Regions from separate parts of the Homo sapiens genome. Here region 2 is linked to region 1. The links come from fine-mapping of genetic effects on gene expression. A gene starts in region 1. The other region holds a variant in brackets. All regions are shown on one strand. Distances are between the middles of the regions.

The links.
Region 2: its variant is fine-mapped to the expression of LRRK2-DT in spleen (GTEx, PIP 0.97).

What each region holds. Positions count from the first base shown.
Region 1 is chr12:40,222,069-40,224,993 of GRCh38, forward strand. It overlaps LRRK2-DT (LRRK2 divergent transcript), which reads right to left and starts at 1,754. Exons shown (of 9, transcript NR_186757.1): 1 at 1,591-1,754. It overlaps LINC01779 (long intergenic non-protein coding RNA 1779), which reads right to left and starts at 2,835. Exons shown (of 1, transcript NR_186584.1): 1 at 1,008-2,835. RefSeq lists a silencer at 2,695-2,925.
Region 2 is chr12:40,956,047-40,958,971 of GRCh38, forward strand. The region is part of intron 14 of CNTN1 (contactin 1); the gene reads left to right. Among named protein-coding and RNA genes, the nearest start is that of PDZRN4, 230 kb to the right of the region's middle. The variant G/T (reference allele first, on the strand shown) is at 1,271.

The DNA.
Region 1 (2,925 bases):
TTTCACTAATCTTGCATTGTTTTTTATTACTTTGTAGAGAATTGACATATTTTTGAATTTAGTTTTCCCATTAATTAATGTGATATTAATATTTATTCATGCCTTTTTAATGCCTTTTAACAGAGTTCAATAATTTATTCATAAAGGTTTTGTAAATATTTGTTAATTTATTTTCAAGGTTTCCCTTTCATTGTCATCATACACACACACACACACAATTGCACTTTATGCTTGTGCATCACTCATGTTTAGGAACACATTTTTTTTATAATGATGACATTAAAAAATACTTATTGGTCATTCAAAATGAATTTCCTTTTCAAAACCTTAGTTTATTATTTTTTTTCCTGGTCTATCTGTGGCGTAATACCCTCCTCCCAGTGATTTGTAAGAACTTTTGAAAGTTGAAGGCAAATTGTATTTCATCATATGTATTTCAAATTTTTTCTTCCTGTTTGCCGTTTGACTTCTAGTTTCATTATTGGGTATTTTTTCTTTGACTGCAGAAAATTTAAATTTGATGGAGTCACATATACTACCCTTATGTGATTTCTTTTTTGTTTTTATGTTTCCTTTTTCAAGATTATATAACTATTAATTTATATTTTATTTTTGAAGTTATTTTTATTTAACTTTTTAATCTATTTGATGTTTGCTGTAATTAGTAATGTCAGTTTTATTTTTTTTCTTTTCAGGAAATTAGCCAAATGTTCTAGCACCATTTTATTCTCCACTGAACCCTGCTTCCATCATAAATTCATGCCTTAATCTTCATTTTCAGTCTTGTTAACTACTTGAAGAGTTGATAAATCTTGGAATTTCAGTCAATCAATTAAACATTTTTGAAAACTAAGAGAATACTTTACCTTAACACTGCAGTAGTTCATGGGAGAATGCTCCCAACAAATAATTCATATTTTCACACTGTCTACTCACAGTCTGGCCAATATAGAGTAGATAATAAATAGGCAATAGATGGATGAATGAATTGTGGAAATTAGGAGACATCTTTTAATTTAGATTTATTTTTCTTTGGAAGGGAGGTAGGTTTTAATTTCTTGCAAGGTTGTAATTCAGTAGAACAGGAAGGGAGAAACTAATGCAGAGGAACAGAAGGAATGCATGAGATGGAGAATGCCTAGAAATGTTTGAGACATTGATTAAGTCATCAGAAATGGAAACAAGTTTAGAAACAACTTAGAAAATAATACACTGTAGGTCTGATAAATATTGTAAGATTGGGAGTTTTTTGTTAAATTATGGAAAATTTTATATAGATACAATAGTAGAACAGACCACATGAACCCATCTCATATTATCTTCAACAATTATCAATTCAAAAGTTGTTATCGTTATCTCTATCTCCACACATTTCATCTTTTCCTCCACCACTGGATGACTTTGAAAGAAATCCTAACCATTTCAACTATAAATATTTTAGCATGTCTCTGTAAAAGTTAAAGACTCTATAACAACAAGACATAGACCCAATATCCAGGTTGAGTAGGAGTTTGCTATCTTACTAATCTAATGTATTAACAAAGTCTAGAGCATTCTTATTAAAGTGGTAGAGCATGAAGAACCTTCTACCTGGAGTTAGGAGATTTGCTGGGTTGAAGTCCTGGCTCTCAACTTCCCACCTGTGTGACTCCAGCAAAGCTCTTCACTTCTCAATTCCAAATCTCAATTTCCTCACTAGTGAAAGAAGGATACATAGTAGTAGTTGTATCCATTTCAGAATTGTCATCAGGATTGAAGTAACAGATGTGAAAACAAAACTAAAATTGTGAAGTAGTAACTTCCAGTCCAATCCTCTTCTTTGTAAGTGATCTTGAGGACAGACACATCACCTGAAGGATAGATCATCTTTGCCTAGCCTTGTCTACAATGTTCTTGCTAGGTTTCTTTTCCTAAAAACACATTACTTAGGTACTTAACAGAACAAACAAACAAACAATCAAAAGACAAAACCAAAAAACTTTGGGGTTATAGACACCCATACTCATAAGTATTTCTGAATACCAAGAGAAGAGTATTTAGGTTTGCTTCTCTCAACTTTTCACCTTTCATTTCATGTACCCTGTCCTTTGTCTCAGCTCTAATAGCTCTGAGAGCTGATTACTTTTCGGGTGTCCCAAGTATCAGGATCCTGCCTAGTGCAACTCAAATTTCCAAAAGTTAATTTAGTGGCCTTTTGGTGACCAGAGCTTCAGATAACTCACAGGGAAACAATGTTTATTTCCTCTCCCACTAACAGTCACAAAAAATCATAAAAAAGAGTAGCGGGGGCAGTTTTGATGGCTAACCCCTCTTTCCATCCTTTGGGGGAAAATTGCTCATCTCCCTATAGGTGGAACTCTAAAGACAATGTATTCCTAAAAGGGGCCATCTGGGCGGTGTCCTCTTTTCCCAGCGCCCTGATTTCTATTCTTAGATCTGGAGATAGGCGGCTTTCATTTTTCCTGCTCCCAGTTCCCAGACCTTCCGTGGGGCCGCAGGATCCCCGGCTGGCGGGTCGCGGAGGGTGGCCGGCCGGGCTGCGCACTGCGCGCCTCCGCTGCGGGGCTCCGGGCCTGTGGACTCAGCGGAGTCCGCTGAGTCAGTTTCTTCCCGCGCGACTCCCGGCCGCGCCGCCGCTGCGGTGGAATCTGGTCCCAGGAGGCGGCGTCCGCCCGGGGTCCGGTCTAGGCGTGCGTGGGGGCCACGGTCACGGTCATCCCAGCCAGGCCCGGCTCCAGCAGCCCCACGGCCGCCGCCAGAGTTCTGCGCGGCCCGTCGCCTCGGCGGAGCCTCTGGCAGGCCCCTGAGCTCGTTTTTGGGGCCTGAGTGGGGGAGGAGGAAGCCGAGCAGGAGGGCTCCGGAGAGGGAGGGCAACGCGGGGCGGGGAGCTGCCTCCTTCCTCATAAACAGGCGGGCGTGGGCGCC
Region 2 (2,925 bases), 730 kb after region 1:
TTTGTTTAGTAAATGCTGTCACTGTCATGGGTTATATGTACTTGCTAACATAATTCTGAATGTAGCTGAAAAGAAGTGAATACATATTATCTTAAGAGCAGATACCAAAATTCTTGACAATTTGACAAGTTCATTCAAACAAGGCATATTTAGCGTGATTATTTGCTTGGCACTGTGCTGGACTTGAGAAGACAGCGCATACAGCTGTATACATATATAACACAGGGATACAACATGTCTGCTAAATAAAACAGACGTATTTCCTCACATCAAACTTATAGTCGGCCAGGGAGAACAACTTCAACCACATAATCACAAAAGTGTTTAACTGCATTTACGATATGTAATATGACAGAAGTTTCATGGTAGCATAATAAAATATAGAAAGGGTACCTGCCTAGTCCACAGAAAATGGAAAGACTTGCTGGAGAAAATGATTTCAACTGGTATTGGGTAGAGGTGAAGGTGATAGGGGAGGGGGTATTGAGGTTATGAGGGGTATGAATCACAATTCCAGAAGACAAGACAATGTGATGAACCAGAGACTGAAGAGAACAAGATACATTTGTGGTCCTAAAAAGAGAATGTTCTGCCTGGAGAGCAGAGTGTGAGTGAGATGGCACACTAGGTGAGCTGGAGCATCAGAGAGAGCCTAGAGAATGGAATCAAGTTGGCTACAATAATGCTATGGCTTTTGTCCCAGGAAAGGGAAATTTTAAAGGTTTCAGTTTATCTGCTTTTATGGAGACAAGTGAGTTGGGCCCAGCTGCATTTTTAAAAGGTTATTCTAGGTAACCAATAGAGGAAAGAATAGAGTGGAACAGTGGTGGAAGTAGTGATCAAATAAGATGTAGGGGTTCAGGTGAGAGATGTGGGTAGTTTGGACAAGAGGCAGTAGTGATGGAAAGAATGGATAAATTCAAGAATTTATGATGAGTTTATGAGAAAGTTGAAGAAAGGGAGGGGTTAAGAATGTCCTAGAAGTTCCTGGAAAGTCAGATGACTAGAAAAAAATGAGTATTTGAGGAAGGAAAGCCAAATGCTATCAAGAAGTCAAATAAGATGAGCTGAAGCAGTGGGACTCAGATGAGAATTGATTGAAGAGTAAGAAATGAAGAAATGGAAAAACTAAAAACAGAATAGATATTGTCAGAATCCAAGTAAAAATCAAACAATCAAACAGCTTAATATGAGAAAATAAGAATTATTTATTTCCAAGAGAAAGAAGAGAAAAGAAGAGAGAAGTAAGAGATTGGTAGTAGGAGTGGCT[G/T]CCAACAAGATGGCAGAGCACTGGGAGAGGTGAAGGTTACTGGGAAATTCCCAGTAAATTTACGGCCAACAGGACTTTTAAAAACAGAATTATGCAGTGGATGATACTTTTCAAGGTTGATTTACCCTACCTTTTTTTTTTTTTTGATATAACCAGTTCCAGCTCCTTCAGTTGTTCAGTAAACTAACTTTACTAGGTAAGACTTCATGCTATTTGGTTTTCTGATAAAATAGAGAAAGTGCTGAATTTCTAGTCTGGAGCTCCCTGGTATGACAAAAATAAATAAATAAATAAATAAATAAATAAATAACAGACCAAGAGGACAGAAGGAAAAAAACTCCCCTATTGCAGGAATTTGTAGAAATCTTGGGAACTGTTTCAATTTTTGACCAATCTATACCTCAAGGGACTGGAAGATCTCAATCGACATTAAATTAAGACTGGCTAATATCAAGGATTAAGGTGTGTGGCCACTGATCAGTTCTTTATATGGAGATATTAATATTCTGTTCCAACTAACTATACCAATATGCTCTCTCAGCTATTATTCTTAACCTCATTAATCCAGCAAGGGTTGCAAACCCAAATGTTTTCCAAGAACTGGAGGGAACATGATATATGAAGAGGTTATTGGTAGAACCTATGGTGAAGCAAAACGTTCACTCCATGTACAGTCATGATACATCATAGGTATCTAGATATTTATCACTGAAATAGTAAATCAATATTTTTGGTTCATAGGAAAACCAAATGTCCATTTAAAAATTGAGTTTTCCAAGTTTTCATTCTAAGAAAATATCTTGGAGATAATTAACATGAACTTTGACATGCTCCTGCTACCATACAAGCTGAGTGACCTTAGTTATCTTAGTTAAATTACTTGGATTCCTTAAGTCTAACTTTTACTGTTAATCAAATGGATATAATAAGACCTATCTCATAGGGCAGTTGTCAAAAAAGAATTGAATAAAAGTGTGTGTATGTGTGTGTGTGCCTGTATGTGTGTATGTATGTGTATATGTGTGTGTGTATATATGTGTGTGTGTGTGTGTGTGTGTGTGTGTATGTATGTATGTATGTATATACTTGCACAGACCAGGACCCGGTATAGAGTAGGCATTGAATAACTATTAGCTATTTTTGGAAATTACATTGAAATGGTGTCTCATCATCACAAGCAAAATTTCCTCAAGACTCAAAAATATGTGTTGAACACTCTTGGAGGCAATAGAATAGAGCATTGAACAAAACAAATACTCTTGTCCTCGCAGAACTTATAATTTGGCAACAGAGTACATGTTAGTGGAATTGTACATTTTCTCAATTTCTGCAAACTTTTAGTATCTTTGTAAAATGAACTGTGGCACATATTAAAACTAGTCAATTAGATCAGCTTTGTGAAACCAAATCAATCATTCTTCCAAACCATATAGTATTTGTTTGTACTCATTGATACTTAAAACTTATTGATACTTATTAGACCTTAATATTTCTCTTTAAGAGATATCAATGAAATAGTTTCATCCCTTGAGTTTCTCTCGATATAACCCTCTGATTGTGGAAATAATAGAATGTTAAAGATATGAAAGCTAAAAAATACCTTATCAATAAATTATTCACTTTATTTTTCAGTTGAGAAACTGAAGCCTAGAGCA